3 separate regions of the Homo sapiens genome follow, and all the other regions are linked to region 1. Evidence: fine-mapped QTL for protein levels in blood plasma. A gene starts in region 1. Each other region holds a variant in brackets. All regions are shown on one strand. Distances are between the middles of the regions.

Region 1 (5,000 bases):
ACCATATAAATTTAAGCTAACAAAACAGATAAGTCTGTAGCAGACAGTTTTTATACAAGGGATTTTCTTTTAAATACTAATTTCCCAAAATATCCTTTAAAAATACTACTATTCAAAGTGTGCGGCTAGGCACAGTGGCTTATGCCTGTAATCCCAGCACTTTGGGAGGCCAGGGCAGGTGGATCACTTGAGCTCAGGAGTTTGAGACCAGCCTGGCCAACGTGATGTATTTTTGTCTCTATTAAAAATACAAAAATTAGCCAGGCATGGTGGAGTGCACCTGTAATCCCATCTGCTTGGGAGGCTGAGGCATGAGAATCACTTGAACCCAGGAGCCAGAGGTTGCAGAGAGCAGAGAGCCTGCCACTGCACTCCAGCCTGGGCGACACAGCGAGATTCCGTCTCAAAAAAAAAAAAAAAACTAAAATGTGTTCCATGGACCACCTGCATCAGAATCATCTGCGCCCCATCCCAAACCCAATGGATCTAAACCAATGGAAGTGGAACTCAGGAAGCTGAATGTTTAATGAACACCCCAAGTGACTTTTTCCACCCCAAGGGTGAAAACCACTGCTTTTAGGAGTCATTCCACTATGGGTTACTGAGTACCCACTGTCTACAGATGGGGTGAAGGGTGAGAGGTGAAGGAACTTGAATCTAAGGTGTTACTGGTATATTTCCAATTACAGGTGAATGACAAATAACTGCAATGCAAGTTAATAGTCATATTCAGCTATATTAAAATTTGCATAAGATTTGCATAGACTTACATTTTTCAAATTAAGTTTACATACAATTTTAAAGACCATAATGATTGAGAATAGAGTGCTCATTACATTCCCAGGTTCTGTTCTAAGATTTAAGTATATTAATTGTTTCACTTTTCAAAATCCTAAGTAATTGCATCATCCCCATACAGAGATAGAGGCTCACAAACGTTAAGTAACTCCTCAGTAAGTGCAGAGCCAAGATTTGAACCCAGAATTCTGGTGCTAAAGCCTATGCTCTCAAACCCTATATCACAAAAACTAAATATAAAAAAGAACGGATTAGGGATAAAAGGTAAAATTGCAAGTTCATAGAACTTTATACCTTGGATTTTTTTTCCTGATTTAGTCATTTTCAAGATAAATAAATATTGTGCTGGGTTGAAGACAGCATGAAATCACTAAAAGAGGTCAAGCCATGTTTTTTTATGACAGCAAGTCCATAGACTGTGAAGCCTACTTGAACTTGGTATATGCTAGAGTTTAAACAGCCTTCCTAGTTCAGACACAGAATCTTTGTTTCAGTCCATCCCACACTGTCCTGTCTCCACACCCCCAAAAAAGTTTCAAGATCTTTACCCTAAATTCCTTCACTCAGCATGTCAGCAGCATGAGTCTAAGACCATGGCCAGCATTAAGTGCTGACAGTGTTTTAAGCACTTGGGTGTCATAATGCATTCAGTCCTCACAACCCTATCATTTCTCCACATTTCACAGAAGAGGAATATAAGGCCGAAAGGCACTTGATCAGGGTCCCAGAGCTGATAAGTGACAGAATCAAGAATCAAGTGGTCCCAGACATCCTGGTACCAAGCCCATGCCTTCAGCCATCTACTAAAACATCTCCCAGTTATTGAGCGTCCACTGTATACCAGGTGCTTAACACAAATTAGCTGAGTCCTTGCAAGTTTGCTCAAAAAGAGCCGCATTCCCTGCCCTGACCAACGAGGACATGAAGGCTCTGAGAGATTAAAGGGCTTGCCCGGAACACACAACTAAAGCCCAGCCTGTCTCTGCATCCAAAGCCTGCACTTTTCCAACATCACTACGATGCCTCCTGGGATTTTATTAGCTACTCCCCCCCTAGAAGGAAGTATCATTACTACCACTTTACTGTTAAGCACATTCACAGGACAGAGAACATGAAGATAACTGTCTTCATATTTAGGCAGTTGGGCTTCAAAACTGCTCTTCAAAACAGGGGCTGGAAAAGGGAGAAAAGGTCCGCCTACTTGTATCTTCCTCCCACCGTGCACAAACACGCTGGAAGCTAAACGGCTTAAATATTTAAATGGCATGTGTGTGAAAGCACTTCTACTTTGTGACAGGGCCATGTTGCACATTAGCTCTCAATGCTATTTGTGTGAACCCGCTTCATACTTTTTAAAGACAAAAATGCTCTATTCATCATTTTATTGACATTTCATATTTGCAGGTTTTATTCGCCTGCGAGGTTAAGACATTTGAAACACAAATCCTGACAAACGCACAGACCAGCAACTCGAGGAACTCAGACGCTTTGGCTCTCGGTGCCACCTTTAAATGCTAAACCACCGGTAGGTAGTCGCTAAATGGGAAAGTCGTGTTCTCCCGGTTTTCAGGTGGGAAAAGCTGAGGCTCCCAGGAGTCTAGAACTCCTCTCATATTGCCTTTCTCCCTGGATCAACTGGGAATGATGATAACAGCAGACTGCCCCCCACGCGTGATAAGGAAAAAACCTTGTAATTATAATAACTTTTGGAGCTACCTCAGAAATTAACAACGACGAACAGAAATCTGCGCAATCAACAGGAGCCAAGAAGAAAAACTCGGCTCCGCAGGACAAGTCCCGGGCACAGTTCTGCAGGAAGCCTCAGGCCAGATCAGGCACCGCGGCTCACACAGAGGTGACGCACGAGTGACCCACAGAGAGGGACCCCTGGGCCTCTGGTGGGGGCCTGGGAGACGGTCGAAGGGGGCCCGGGCAGAAGCTCCGCGGCCGGGCCGGCGGAGGGAAGGGGGCGGCCGCGCCCGGGACCCGGCTCCCCTCGGCTCCACTTACCTGCTCCGAAGAGTGGCCCCAGCTCTGCGCCTCTTCCTGCGACCCCACACACAGGGACAGCCCCAGGCACAGCCCCAGCAGCAGGAGCATGGCGGGGCGAGGGCGCGGGACGCTCGGGGACCCGGCGGGACACGCTTTGCAGCGCCCAGGGCTCCAGCCACTGCGGGACGCTCTCGGGGCCGCCCACCCCGCGGTCCCAGCCCGGACCCCGCCCACCCCACGGACCCAGCCCGGACCCCGCCCACCCCGCGGTCCCAGCCCGGACCCCGCCCACCCCACGGACCCAGCCCGGACCCCGCCCACCCCACGGACCCAGCCCGGACCCCGCCCACCCTGCGGTCCCCTCCTGGACTCCGCCCACCCCACGGACCCAGCCCGGACCCCGCCCACCCCACGGACCCAGCCCGGACCCCGCCCACCCCGCGTCCCAGCCCGGACCCCGCCCACCCCACGGACCCAGCCCGGACCCCGCCCACCCTGCGTCCCCTCCTGGACTCCGCCTACCCCGGTCCCAGCCCGGACCCCTTCCACCCCGCGGTCCCCTTCTGGACTCCAACTCTCCCACCCCAGCCCAGACCCCACTTCCCCGCCCCAGACCTTCCCACACCCTGCCTCCCTGGACACCCCCCAAGCCCGGCCTCGCCTCCCTGTCCCCAGTCAGGACCCAGCTTCCCCAGGTCCCCAACCCCAAGCTCCGTTTCTCCACGCCCCCATTTCCCCCCACCTCCCCAGTCCCGGCCCCACCTCTCCTGTCCCTGTCCCCACCGAGGCCAACTTCCCAGACCCCACCTACAGCCACCCCCTTAAACCCGGCCCGCCTCCCTGTGGCCCCCACACCAGCCCCGCCTCCTCCCCAGTCCCCACCCCGCCCGGCGCCGCTTCCCGGCCTCAGTCCCACCAGAGCCGCGCCTCCAGCCCCCAGTGCTGGGCTAGCTCTGTTCGGGGAGAAGGCATTCCAAGCCTGCCTCGCCGCGCACAGCAGGGGCCACCTGTGTTGGCCCCACGGACCCCTCCCACACCCTCCCATCCTGCGGCTGTGACACTTAACCAAGGACCAGTCTCCTCTGTAGAGCCTCCTACTCCGTTTCTTGCCAACACCCACTGCCTCCCGGGCCCTACCCCACGCGCCCCCGCAACTCTTTCTTCCTCTCCCTCAAGGTGCAATATGCTTCTTTGCGGACTTGCTTAATTTCTGTCGCCAGAGGACGCGAGAAGGCCAGCCTGGTCCTCAGCACACAGCCCACCCCGCACCTGCCAGCCTGAAGCCGGCAGATCGTCCCCTCTGCATTGGCCAGGGACGCTTAATAGGCAGGACAAAGGATACTACCTGCAGTCTAGCGCAGGAGGGACTAGCAAGGCTGCCAGCCTTTATGTTCTAAGGAAACAGAGGAGACGAGGGAAGTATCTTGGTAGCGTGTAGTATTTCTGAGTTTCTGGTTATTAATCATGTAAGTGAGTGCCAGTATGTATCTTAGTTACAAACTATTGGTGATACTTCCATCCTGCCATTGGAAGAATTCTTACCCACCAGCCGTCCACACCTGGCCTTCTACAGGCTGAGTGCGTCTTTTTTATCTGGTGATACACATTGCAGTTGGGGCTACTTGTTTATTTCATGTTGCAAAGGATGTTTTTTATGTCTCTGTGATAATTTCATCTAAATAGGTGAGGTGAGTGACAGACCCTTTAAGGACCAAGAACAGGGAAGGGGCTAACTTCGGACCATGGAATAGAGAATACTATTCCATGCAGGTTACTATGGGGCCATTAAATAATCGTGCGACGTCTCCAGAAACATGGAGAATGTTGACAGTGTAATCTAAAGAGAAAATCACATCACCAAATCGTATCAACAGTATGATTGCAATTAGGTAGAAATACATATGGAGGGACATAACTAGAAAAAAAAAACATGAAAAATAAAAGCAGTGGGTAGGTTAGTTTGTGGTGAGATCCTCGAAAATATCTATTCTTGTTGAAATGCTCTTTGTTTAATGAATTAGGAGAGGTTAAAAACAAACACCTTGCTACTGTGAAATAAATGAAAGGAAAATTATTGTCATCAGCAGTTAATCCTTTAATAGCCTAACCACTAGTCAGCATGCAACCAATAAGAAACAACTGTAGCCGGTTATTTTTCCCTCCAGAGGAAAGTAACTATTTGTGAACCAGAAGTTGAATTGGACAAAGCC
Region 2 (8,683 bases), 100 kb before region 1:
GGATGACCACAAGGAAAAAAGGTCTGGGAACTATGACAAAGGCTGGAGAGCTCCAAGTAAAAGATGCATCATTCACTTGGCCAACTCTTCGTCACCAAGACATGCCAGTAAAATCAACCACATGGAGTTGTCCTGTGTATGAAAAGCCCTTAGCTTATTGGAACAAATTGGAGAATAGCCATTAGCAAAGTCAAGTGGTTTACAAAGCCCATTAGAAAGAGATCAGTATCTGAGCTGTAGATGTTTCTATTTTCAATCAAATTTCTTTTTAATGAAAACTAATTTTTAAGGGCAAGATACCACAGCAGAAGAAAAACGTCTTGCAAGAAAAGACTTCATGGTTTACAACGATCAAATGTATGGGCTATTTGCCTGATTGGTGGCCTGGACTCAGCAAGAGATTCCTTTGCAGCAGAGGTTGGCCACACATCTGGGGGCTGCAACACCACTGAAAAGACAGCTTTCTAAGCATTAGTGTAAGGCAAAAAGCAGAGTGCCTAAACTTGTCCATTTCCACCAAGAAAAAAAGTTTCATAGCAACCTTCCTTCACCAGAAAGGCTTACTTTATGATATGCTAACAGAACAGAAAAGCAGGTTGGGACAAGATACAGACTTTGTTGCATTTAGCTATGACCCTTCTCTCCCCTCTGTGGATGTGGGCAGGGTGGGGAGAGGCAGGAAGAGGCAGTAGAGGGAAATGACATTTGCACTCAGGCTTCCCGCCCCTACCCACCCCTACCCTTCGCCCAGACAGACGTCGGATCTATGCTGCACCAGGGGTGGGTCATGGAGTCCAGCTAATTGCCAGGAGCTGAGGCGTGTACAAGCCATGAAAAGAGCTGCCCCACGGCCTCCCCACATCACTGTCCTTCATGCACTTGCATCTTTAAGGCTGCCAGCTTCAGAGCTCCCTGGACATTCCCCGGCCAAGTGTCATCCCTGTGTCAAATGGATGGGATGCCAGGTAATCCTTGTACTCCCCGTCAATCAGTTTGGCGGCATTGTTCCTGGCAAACCAGCAGTCTATCTGCTCTTCCCCGTTGTAAATCTTCCTTTGCTTCCAGACCACTGGGACTTGGTGGCCTTTCACTGTTAGGACGGCCTCAGGCCCCTCTCCCACCTGAAGGAGCAGAGGGTGAGTGAGGTTCTGGCTGGGCCCTGCAGGGTCTTCTGTGAGTCTGGCATCCTGATTCAGGAACTGACCTGGGAGGACAAGGAAAAGCATCGGGTCTCAGTCAAATGCAGAAACCTCGTGCTGAACTCCAACTTCAGAGCTATCAGTGGCAGAAAGGCTTACAACTGGCCACAGCCCGAGACTGGACTCTCCCAGTGACATGGAAGAACATGTGCTCTGGGGGGCAGGGTGGAGAGAGCTGAGGATTTATCCACATTGTGGGATTTACCCATGACTGCTGGAAGCTTCCCAGCTGCTAACACTAGAAAGTTGTGTAACCTACACATAGTGATAACCACGGTCTCCTACTGAGTCCAGAGGACAGGACGGGGCATATGAAGAGGGAAGTAGTGTTCCATCTTCTCTCTGTCCTCTTCCCAGTCACAGGCCCGCCTCCTTTCTATCCGTCTCAGGTCTGTGCCGGGTGGGGGTGGAAAGCAGTCAGCTCAGATCCTCTCTGACCCTCGTCCTCAGGACTCTCCTGGTCAGATGGCAGCACTGCTCAGGCCACAGGAATAAAGAGCTGTGTCTGCAAGGGGAGCTCATGCTGGGCCGCCAGGCCCCACGAAACGCGGCCAGCTCAAGAGCCAGGAAATCCTGCCTACTAAACTGAACCCTGACAATGGCTTGCTCTTTATTTTTGGGCAAGGGGCCCACATGAAATTACACGTTGAAGAAAGCTGGGTAGAATGGCCCGCCTGCTGGGCACGGCCACGTGGGTGCCCCCCCGGTGGGGGTGTCGCTCAGGCTGGGCGCTGGGCAGGGCTGCCTCGTGTCTGTGTATTCTTGCTGAGAGCAAAGGAACTGGACCCTCAGGTGACTACATTTTAATTCCTCATTCATTTTTCCAGAAGGCTAAAGAGAACTACTGGTTTATAAAGCCCATTCCTAGCTCACAAAGCCCAGGAAGGAATCTAATTTTCATATTACATATGTAGTAATCTAATGTTCATATTACATATATAGTAATCGAATTTTCATATTACATATGTAATTTTCATGTTACATATATAGTCATGCACCACATCATGACATTTTAATCAATGATGGACTGAAAATATGATGGTGGTCCCATAAGATTATAATAGCATATTTTTAGTGTACCTTTTCTATGTCTAGATATGTTTAGATGAACAAATACTTATCATCGTGTTGCAATTGCCTGCAGTAGTCCATGCAGTCACATGCTGTACAGGTTTGCAGCCCGGGAGCAATAGGAGACACCACATAGCCTAGCTGAGTGGGTAGTATGCGACACTATCTAGAGAGGTTTGTGTAAGGATATTCTAGATGGTCACGTAATGACCAAATCACCTAACGACCATTAGAATGTATCCCTGTCATTAAGCAAGGCATGACTGTGTGTGTCGGTGGGTGTGAATATATATAATATGTACATACATACACAGACTGTGTATGTGTACACACACACATATATACAGACTGTGTGTATATATACACACACACACCATAGACTGTATACATACATACATATATACATACATACACAGACTGTATATGTATACACACACACATACATACATATACAGACTGTGTGTGTATATATATATATATACACACACCATACATACACAGACTGTATACATACATATACATATACACACACGTTCATACATATAGACTGTATACCTACATATATACATATATACATACATAGACTGTATATATATATACATATATACACACATAGACTGTATATATATATATACACACACACACACACATACATATACAGACTGTGTATATATACACACACCATACATACATACAGACTGTATATATAAACACACATACATACACAGGCTATATATATATATATACACACACATACACACACATCATACATACATATATACACAGAGTGTATACATACATATACACATATACACAGACTGTACATATATACACACACCATACATACAGACT[G/GTA]TATATATATATACACACACACATCACACATACAAAGATGGTATACATATATATATACATACACAGACTATGTATGTATATATACACACATATCATGCACACATACATAGACAGTATACATACATATATACACATAGACTGTGTATATATACACACAGACATACATATGTACATATACAGACTGATTATATATTATGTATATGTGTGCATATATAGACTGTATATATACATACTTATCAGTCTGTGTATACATATATACATACAGACGGTATATATAATACATATATACATGTATATTTATAATATATAATACATTATGTATATGTATATATGTATAGACTGTATATATATACACACACATACATATACAGACCATATACACATACATATACAGACTGCATATATAATATATATTATGTATTTATATAGAGAGACTATATACACATATGCAGTCTGCATGTACACATATGCATACATACAGACTATATATAATACATATATACATATATATGTATAGTATATAATACATTATGTATATGTATATATGTATAGACTATATATATGTACACACACACATACATACATACATATGCGGACTGTATATATAATGAAAACCACATTCCTATTGAATTTCTCAATCAAACGAAAGGTGTTGGCAATATCAGCTTTGCTTGGGAAATGTAACTCTGCCCTCTATGCCCAGCGTGAGGAGAGCGCAGCTTCCTACCCAGCAGTCCGTGGCAGTTGCTGGAAAGGCCCTCGCTGTTGGCAATGTAGAAACCCAGGTGGTGTCGCTGGAAGGGCGCCGGCTTTTTGTAGAGGTGGATGAGGATGACAAAGGCTATGGAGCCCTGGATGGTGACGGTGACATTGGCGTTGGCAGACACGGACACCTCCAGCCCCCAGCTCCCCACCACCACACTCTGGTTGCAGGGGAGCACCAGTCTGTCCCCACCATCCAAGATGACTCTGCTCGGTGTGATCTCGAGATAAGATCTCTCTGGCTTGTTGATGAGGATGGTGATAGTGCGCAAGTAAGTGCGCTGTTTCTTGTGGCCATTTGGAGGGGCGGGTGCCCCAATTAACTCTCCGTTCACTGTGACACCTCAAAGGCCAAGGGGAAAAGAAGAAGGTTAGAAAATCTGACCAGGAGTGGTGGCTCACACCTGTAATCCCAGCACTTAGAAGGCCAGGGCAGGTGGATTGCCTGAGTCCAGGAGTTCAAGACCAGCCTGGGCAACACAGAGACCCCATCTCTACTAAAAATAAACAATTAGCTGAGCATAGTGGTGCAAGCCTGTAGTCCCAGCTAGTTCACTTGAGCCCAGGAGTTCCCTTGAGGCCAGGAGTTCAAGGCTGCAGTGATCTGTGATTGCACCACTGCAGTCTACCCTGGGCTACAGAGTGAGATCCTATCTCATTAAAAAAAAAAAAAAAAAGAAGAAGAAGAAGAAGAAGAAGAAAGAAGAAAGAAGAAAGAAGAAAGAAGAAGAAGAAGAGGAAGAGGAAGAGGAAGAGGAAGAGGAAGAGGAAGAGGAAGAGGAAGAAGAAGAAGAAGAAGAAGAAGAAGAAGAAGAAGAAGAAGAAGAAGAAGAAGAAGAAGAAGAAGAAGAAGAAGAAAAGAAAAGAAAATCTATCCCTGCCCAACGCATCAAGTTAGAACTTCCCTCCTCCTTTGGGCTTATCTTTGTATCTCTAGTACCAAAAACATGTCTGACTTACACACAGAGGTCACTCAGTGGTCACCAAGTGAGTGAACAAATGAGGGAATGCGTAAAGTTATGTGCGGATTTTTTACTGTTGTCTGACCAGTATGTTGGGATAGGGGAGAGAGGATGTAGTTTTGGGTCAAGATATCGTAGATGGAGGCATGAAGCTAAGTATTTGTGCATCTACACACAGCTTACCATGTTCGTCTGGTTTCCTTCCAGTGTGGCTGTAGTGATAAGAACTCTTATATGACCCTGATACATATTTTGTACCTACCAGAGGCTGCTGATCCTAATTCGGACATCTTTTATTATTATTATTATTATTATTATTATTATTATTATACTTTAGGTTTTAGAGTACATGTGCCCAACGTGCAGGTTTGTTACATATGTATACATGTGCCCTGTTGGTGTGCTGCACCCATTAACTCGTCATTTACATTAGGTATATCTCCTCATGCTATCCCGCCCCCCTACCCTGACCCCACGACAGGCCCTGGTATGTGATGTTCCCCACCCTGTGTCCAAGTGTTCTCATTGTTCAATTCCCACCTATGAGTGAGAACATGCGGTGTTTGGTTTTCTGTCCTTGCAATAGTTTGCTCAGACATCTTATGATGCCACTGAGCAGTGTGGGAGAATGTAAACTTAGTTGTTGTTTTTTGTTTTGTTTTTGTCCAAAAACTCAAGTTCTTCCACTTAGGTGTTTGTCCTTAGACAAGTCAAAAAAAAACCTGTAATCCCAGTTTCTGGGGAAGCTGAGGCAGGAGAATCACTTAAACCCAGGAGGTGGAGATTGCAGTGAGCTGAGATGGTGCCACTTCACTGCAGCCTAGGCAACAGAGTGAAACTACATCTCAAAAAAACAAAAACCCTGCCTCAATTTCCTTATCTGTAAAATGGATGGACAGATGGAAAACCTAACAGAATTTTTGTGAGGATCCCAGAAGGTAGCATGTGTGTAAGTTGTAAACTGCTATGAAATAGAACTCCTTTTTTTTCTTCATCATTATGAACATCACTGGGGCTTTTCTGGACTTGAGCAAGGCCTGTGAACCAGGCCCCAGGGTTCCGTGCTGTCTGGCTGAATAACAAACAGATGGCGATTGCACTTGAGATGTTTGGGGCTGAATTAGGTGATGCATGTTAAATGTGTTTTGCTCTCAGGCAAAGCAGCAATTTGCAATAAGAAAAGATTGCTATATAATTAACTCTTGTTTTCTCTGCTTTGAGAACAATCTTCCCAGTAATCTTCCCAATAAAACTTCTTAGACATTCAAGGAAAAAAGGGCCTTCTCTGGGGCAAGGGGTCAGGGGAGAGGAGAAATCCCAGCATGAGAAGAGCCTATGCTCTTCCAGCCTCAAAGTTCTAAGCATTTTCAGGCTGAGTTCCCACCACGGACATCTCGCTGAAGACAGAAACCATGGGAACTGCTCCCAGAATAGGAGGTATTTCCAAGGACATATACAGTTAGGCCCCTATCTTGCTCCTGAGCCCTTTGAAATAAGAAACAGTAGAGATTTGGCTCTGAGGCTATAAAGTCCCACAAGAAAACATGTGTTGAAGGAACCCCAGGATCAAACTCTACATAATTGCATCACACATATCACCTGCTGGGGGACCCTGTGCAACCCAACATTCCAAGACACGTTCTCAGCAGTGAGGAAGTGCCGGGGTGCCCACTCCAAAGCTTGTCCTCACAGAGCTGGACATGGTTTGTTACCTGCATCGAACTTGAAAAGCTTTCTCTGTGCTAATCTCTTTCACCCAAGCCCTCTACAGACCAACAGGGGCCACAGAGCCCCTTTGTCCATACATGTTCACGGCACACAGACAGAACTGTGGATTAACATGTGACATCCCATGTAAGTCATCAAGAAACTGACATGAGTTTAGAACCTTGGCCTCCCCGGCATCACAGCTTTTGAATGGATAGACACTATGACAATAATACACAATAATATATTGTGGTTTTCTTTTCTTTTTTTCTTTTTCTTTTTTTTTTTTTTTTTTTTTTTGAGATAGAGTCTTGCTCTTTTCACCCAGGCTGGAGTGCAGTGGCATGATCTCAGCTCACTGCAACCTCTGCCTCCCAGGTTCAAGCGATTCTCCTGCCTCAGCCTCCCGAGTAGCTGGGATTTCAGGTGCCCACCACTATGCCGGGCTAATTTTTTTGTAACTTTAGTAGAGATGGGGTTTCACCATGTTGGCCAAGCTGGTCTTGAACTCCTGACCTCCGGTGATCCACCTGCCTCGGCCTCCCAAAGTGCTGGGATTACAGGCATGAGCCACCGCGCCCAGCCTACATAGCGGATTTCTAAAGCACTTCAGCATTTAAAAAACAACTTCATAACCAGTTTCATTTGATCCATTTTATATTAGCTCTGTGAGGCCAAGAGAGTGTTCCTATCTCCATTTTACAAGGGAAACAACTCCCAAGGCATGTGCCCAAGGTCACACGGCACTTGTCATAAAGCAGGGAGTCGGATGCATAAGTCCAGGAGCGCAGTGCGCTTCCCTTAACCACTGACGATACTCACTGAGCGTCTGTAAGGTGGCCCTTGGATCACTGGACATCCATCTGAAGAACAGAGGGGGATGCAGTACCTACCTGGTCCTTGCCCAGATGCTGCAGCGGAAGGTAGAACTTACCAGAGTCCCTGTGATCAGAGACCAGCCTGAGGATGTCCCCGGGCTGCCCATCAATGTTGAAGCACACGGTGAGTCTGCTCAGGGGGAAATCCACAACAAAGTGGGGATCACCATCCACTGCCAGAGCAGAAGAAAACGGAGAGAAAAAGAAAGACACTTATTCAGTACCTTCCTTGTGTAGGTGCTACTCTCTATTTTCTCATGAATTATTTTATTGAATCCTGAAAACTATTCTGGAAGGAGGTGTCCTCAATTTCCAGATGAGGAAGATGAGTGGGAGGGAAACAACTCCCCAGAATTACCCAGTGAGTTTGCAGTAAACATTTGACTTCAGGTCTTCTAAATTCCAATATAATGCTCCTTTCAACACACCTCAGCTCAGTCTAGACAACTAAGCTTTGAGAGGTGAGAGGAGAAGGAAAGAGAGATCCCCACACACCTTCAACTGGTACTCAGCCCCCATGCTTCCATTTCCCAGGGGGACATCCCTTGCTATTTGCTTTCTCCTTTAATGGCACAGATGCAGAGGACTTTCCTCCCTATGATGGGAGATCTATGGTGCTTCTTCTCCCAGGAAGCCATGGGCTACCCCAGGCTCATTCGCAGCGTCAGCTGTACGCCACCCCTGCACGCAGGCACTGAGAGCCATGCCCAGCTTAGATGCAGAGGCAAGGGAAGCAAAATGCGAGTAGGCGGCCAGGCGCACAGTCAGGGTGCTGGCGGAAACCCCTCCTTTGGGTCACTCCGACTTCACTGCTCTGAAATTTCTGTCCACAGATGAGACCGCAAAGTTCAGCTGACAGTTCTTATCTGTTCTCCTCATTTTCACCTCTGTTAAAGGTGAACAGCCTTGCCTTTTATTATACAGACAGAAGATTTCTTGAGAATCTATATCAATTCTCTTACCAGATTGGAGATTTACCTTCTCTCTAATTTATATTCCAAGTGCAATTTGTTTATTTTATTTATTTTTGAGACAGGGTCCCACTCTGTTGACCAGGCTGGAGTACAGTGGTGCAATCAGAGCTCACTGCAGCCTCAAACTCCTGGGCTCAAACGGTCCTCCCACCTCAGCCTCCTGAGTAGCTGGGACTACAGGCACGTGCCACCATGCCAGGCTAATTTTTTATTTTTTGTAGGGACAGGGTCTCACTATGTTGCCCAGGCTGGTCTCAAACTCCTGGGCTCAAGCATTC
Region 3 (5,379 bases), 87 kb before region 1:
GATCACTAGGCAGCAGGTTGAACACCATTGGTGAGAGGGAATGCATTCTCTCACGCGGCTTCTGAGCTGTTTTTCAACCACTCTCATGATGAGAAAAAACCTGCTTATAGTAGATTAAAATCTTCCTCCCTGAAATTTCCACCCACTGGTTTCAGTTTTGCCTCTGGAACAATATCGAATTAGTGTAATCCATTTCAACAGACATTTGGATGCTTAAAAAACAATGCTGTGCATTCCTTTAAGCCCAGTCAATCCCCAGTTTCATGAACTATTCTTCCTGTGATACAATTTCAAGATTCCCTCACCAGTCTTGGTAAATTTCCTTTGTGTACACTTACGTTTCTTAAAGGGACTCTTAAAAACCTTTTTCTTAGAACCAAATACAAATTCCAGATGTGCTTTAAGCAGCGCATTCTACTTCAGAAACCTGACTTTCGTGAGTTTGTGCGTATAACATTTGCTTGCATTTGCTTTCCTTGTAGTTAAGTTGCATGGTCGCTTCTTGCTAAGTAAGGAGACAATTAAAATTCCCTTTCAAAAGGCCTAGAAACCATAGGCTGTGGAGTTAGACTTCCATCTCTGTTGCTTCCTTGCTGTGTGTCTTGGGACATGTGACTTAACCTCTCTGAACTTGAGTTTCCTTATCTAGAAAATCAGGATGTAAACAGTACTTCTTTGGTCACCTACTAGCTGTCCCTGAAAGTCCATTTTCCCCTTCTTTCATGAGAATTGAGCTCCGGCCATCCAGCTACAAACTACATTTCCCAGCCTCCATCGAGGCCACAAATGGCTATGTGACTATGTCCTCCCAATGGAATATGGGTAGCAGTGAGATGTGCAACTTCTCAATATTTGCTTACAATCCATGCTGGCTTTCTTTTCTCTCTCCCTTTTTGCGGCTAGAAAACAAGAGTGATAGTGACTGAATTTCAATCCTGTAGCATTAAGGACAACACCTGAGGGAAGCAGAGCAATAAAACAGAAGGAGCTTGGGTCCCTGAATGACTTCTGGGAGCAGGATCTAGCCTGTTACCATTACAGGAGAGGGAAGGAAATGGCTATCTTATTTCAGCCTTTGCCTTTCATCATCTCTGTATTGCAGCTTAGCCTTTACCCTAATACACCTACCTCCTAGGATTTCTGTGAGGATCATCTGGGATGATGCACATCGAAGTTCCTGGTGTATCATAAGTTCTCATAAATGCCAGGTATCGATCATAGTTTCAGTGGGATGGCAGTGCAGCTGACTTGTTACAGCATAACTGCTTTTGCTTCTGAATGCCTTATTGAATTTCAATTCTGTTATCCAGTGTATCAGATTCTCCCCTTTGACTCTAGTTTTGAATAATTTTTAAAATGTGGAAAGCAAATCTGTGTTTTCATTTAAATCTTTCATTAAAATGCGTGGGAGGAAACGGTGGCGAATCCCAAACCGAGGACCTGTCTTTACTGCACACCTTAGGTGTCTCCATTTCCATTTATCATTAATAAATGTGCTTTGACTATGGCTATTAAACACCTATAAATCTACCCAAACCTCCCCTTTGCTTTTAAGTAGATACCACATATGCCACGATGCAGATTAAAGCACCTCACGCTGAACTGGGAGCTGGCACTTCACTCAATGAACAGCAAAGGAGCAGACTGATGCGTGGCAACATAATATCGGAGGGAAGCTATTTCTGTTTTAAAAGATCTGAGTTTTCTCCATCTCTCATTTAAAAGATCTCATTTATTCTCCACCTCAAAATAATCTGATTATTTAACAGTTTTATCTGATGGTTTTGCTTCCAAATAAAAGTATCTTTTAACTAGTACTCAAAATGAACATAACAGTACTCTGCTACTTGCTCACAGGGTAGAATAAAAGTAAACTTACTAGAAAGTGCTTTGAAATATCAGGATGTCAATGAACTATGAGAGCTCATTAAATACTTAATATGGGATGGCCACTGTGCCAGTGCTATACATAGTGTTTTTATATAGCGATTTTCTCATTAAATTCTGCAACCAACCATAATCCTCATTTTACAGATGAGAAAACGGAGGTACAGACTGTCTTAAAATCTTGCTTAGGGCCGGGTGTGGTGGCTCACGCCCATAATCCCAGTACTTTGGGAGGCCAAGGCGGGCAGATCACCTGAGGTCAGGAGTTCGAGACCAGCCTGACCAACATGGAGAAACCTTGTCTCTACTAAAAATACAAAATTAGCCAGGCGTGGTGGTGTGTGACTGTAGTCCCAGCTACTCAGGAGGCTGAGGCAAGAGAATTGCTTGAACCCAGGAAGCAGAGGTTGCAGTGAGCTGAGATCACGCCATTGCATTGCAGCCTGGGCAACAAGAGCGAAACTCCATCACAAGAAAAAAAAAAAAAATCTTGCCTAAAGTCATAAAGGAGGATCAGAATTCGAACTCTGATCTGCCTAGTTTCAAAACACATGGTGACACCTCCCATTGCAATGAGCTATGATCGTTGTCAGCAGATGCAAGGCTGGGGTGCAGCAACACACTCCTCTCTGAATTCCCACCGCAGCCACCCCTCAGCCCCTCAAACAGCCTCTCATGCCTACGAAGACAGACCACAGACCCGATGAGCTGCGAGCCTGCGTCCTCCTCCTCGTGCACGCGCCGTGTGAGGCCACAGTTCTCCAGCGACAGTTTCTCCAGCAGCCTGAAGTCCACGTCGTTGCCGATGCCAATGGTGAAGATGCAGACTTGGCCTCGGGCGGCCTCTCGGGTGTTGTTGAGGATCTTGAGGGTGTGCGTCTCCCCGACCGTGGGCTTCCCATCCGTCAGGAAGACGATGAGGGACACGCTCCGGTCTCCAATGCCACTGTGGGCCACGTACTTGTTGAGGAGCCTGATGGCCCTCTGCAGG[G/A]CCCCGTTGATGTCTGTGCCTGCAGGACACCAACACGGAACAGCTCAAGCCTCTGCACTCACCTCCGCACTCTGATTGCACTTTCTTTTTTTTGAGACGGAGTCTTGCTCTGTCACCCAGGCTGGAGTGCAATGGCGCAATCTGCACTCACTGCAACCTCCGCCTCCCAGGTTCAAGCGATTCTCCCGCCTCAGCCTCCCGAGTAGCTGGGATTACAGGTGCACACCACCACATCTGGCTAATTTTTGTATTTTTAGTAGAGATGGGATTGACCATGTTGGCCAGGCTGGTCTCAAACTCCTGACCTCAAGTAATCCGCCCACCTTGGCCTCCCAAAGTGCTGGAATCACAGGCATGAGCCACCATGCCCAGCCTGAATGCACTTTCATAGCTGCAGTTCACGCTCAACCACCCAAATGCTCACAGGAGTGAGGTGTTAAGGGGCCATCCAGAAACTTGCTAAAAGCAAGTGCATTTACTAAATGCATATAAGTGAATGGGGATTATCCCACTGTAACAAACCTTCTCCAGAAGGCATGTGGCGACGCCTTAGCTTACCTGAGCTTCAATGGCTTCTGTGCCCTCTTCTGAGAATGGCTTTGAAAAGAGCAGGAAGGTGTTGAGCATAGAAGACAGCAGGAATGTGGAGGGAGAAAGAGCCGCAGAGGGGAGGAGGGGCATGGAACGAAGAGGAGGAGGGTAGCTGCTGACATCTCAGATGCCTTCCAGTGTTGTCTAGGGCTAGGTGGAGCTGATGAAAGAATGAATTTGTTGCCTTCATCGTCTCTCCTTTCTTTGCTTCCTGTCCCTTCAGATCACCTCTGCTTGCCAGAACCCCACAGAGAAAGGAGCCATGAAATATTTCTCCTCCTGGCCACCCTTTTTCCTTCAGAGGCCCTTGTCAGCAACAGCTCTGATTAAAGTTGGAGGCCAGCCAGGCACGGTGGCTCATGCCTGTAATCCCAGCACTCTGGGAGGCCAAGGTGGGTGGATCACCTGAGGTCAGGAGTTCGAGACCAGCCTCGCTAACATGGCAAAACCCTGTCTCTACCAAAAATACAAAAATTAGCCGGGCATGGTGGTACATGCCTGTAATCCCAGCTACTCGGATGGCTAAGGTCAGAAAATCACTTGAACCCAGAAGACGGAAGTTGCAGTGAGCCAAGATCGTGCCATTGCACTCCAGCCTGGGAAACAGAGTGAGACGCGGTCTCAACAGAAAAAATAAAAATAAAATAAATAAATGAATAAATAAAATAAAGTTGGGGGCGAAAGGGAAGAAAAATTTTATCAGGAATATGTGGCTTAGAAAAACCATACGAAACAGAAAACAAATCTCAACTCTGAGAAATGATGGAACAATAAACACCAATGACATTAGCAGGCATCTGTGGACAGCAGGAGGTTTTTCTCTCCTTTTTTTCTTTTGATGATTTTCTTTATTCCTCAAATGTTTTAGAATAGATACTTCCATGGAAAAAATGGTGTGAGAACATGAGCAGGCTTCTGGAGTTCTAAATGTTCTGTTTCTTGATCTGGGTCCAGGTTCTGTTCAGTTTATGAAAACATATCAAGTTGTACACTTACTACATGTACATTTTTCTGCATGTATGTTACACTACAGGTTACTGCTTCCTTTAAAAAGAATGTTCCCATGTTTTCTTTTCTTTTCCTTCTTTTTTTTTTTTTTTTTTTTTTTAGAGACAGGGTCTCACTATGTTGCCCAGGCTGGTCTCGAACTCCTGGGCTCAAGCAGTTCTCCCACCTCAACCTCCCAAAGTGCTGGGACTACAGGCATGAGCCACCATGCCCGGCCACCCATGTATTTTTTTTTTTTTTTTTTTTTTTGAGATATAGTCATGCTCTTTCGCCCAAGGTGGAATGCAGTGGCGTGATCTTGGCTCACTGCAACCTCTGCCTCCTGTGTTCAAGCAATTCTCCTGCCTCAGCCTCCCGAGTAGCTGGGATTACAGGCACACGCCACCATGCCTGGCTAATTTTTGTACTTTTTTAGTAGAGACGGGTTTCACCATGTTGGCCAGGCTGGTCTTGATTTCCTGACCTTGTGATCTGCCCGCCTCGGCCTCCAAAGTGCTGGGATTACTGGCAGGGGCCACAGCACCTGGCCCCATGTATTCTTAAATTTACTACTTTATGATTAAAATAAATCAGACAATTTAAGTTTGGGAGCAAAATAAATAAATAAAGTTGGGGCCTGTGTCTTTGATAGGAGCTGAACAAGTATTTGTTTGGTGGATGGGGAGACAGGTGGTTGGGTGGTTGAGGTTGAAACCCCAGCTACAGTGAGGTTTCTGGGTTAGCTAAGAATTCCACTGGACTAAGCTACCAACATCCCACCATTACCAAGTAAAGCAGAGACCTTACTGTAGTGTGAACACCTATTTCCTTTGTTTTTTTTTTAAAATGGCTTAAGATAAAATCTACATACCAAAAGATCACCCATTCTAAGTGTCCAATTCATGATTTGTAGTAAATTTAGA

Evidence for each region. PIP is the posterior inclusion probability: the model's chance that the variant is causal. Sun 2018 read protein levels with aptamers (SomaScan).
Region 2: its variant is fine-mapped to the plasma level of the ITIH5 protein (Sun 2018, PIP 0.91).
Region 3: its variant is fine-mapped to the plasma level of the ITIH5 protein (Sun 2018, PIP 0.95). The variant lies in the coding sequence of ITIH5. If it changes the protein, the assay may bind it differently, which can mimic a change of level.

What each region holds. Positions count from the first base shown.
Region 1 is chr10:7,663,995-7,668,994 of GRCh38, forward strand. It overlaps ITIH5 (inter-alpha-trypsin inhibitor heavy chain 5), which reads right to left and starts at 2,972. Exons shown (of 14, transcript NM_030569.7): 1 at 2,809-2,972. The coding sequence starts at 2,898.
Region 2 is chr10:7,562,181-7,570,863 of GRCh38, forward strand. It overlaps ITIH5 (inter-alpha-trypsin inhibitor heavy chain 5), which reads right to left. Exons shown (of 14, transcript NM_030569.7): 12 at 7,488-7,604; 13 at 3,850-4,227; 14 at 1-1,204. The coding sequence ends at 903. Among named protein-coding and RNA genes, the nearest start is that of LINC02642, 94 kb to the left of the region's middle. The variant G/GTA (reference allele first, on the strand shown) is at 3,123.
Region 3 is chr10:7,577,168-7,582,546 of GRCh38, forward strand. ITIH5 (inter-alpha-trypsin inhibitor heavy chain 5) reads right to left here. Exons shown (of 14, transcript NM_030569.7): 9 at 2,588-2,897. Among named protein-coding and RNA genes, the nearest start is that of ITIH5, 87 kb to the right of the region's middle. The variant G/A (reference allele first, on the strand shown) is at 2,879.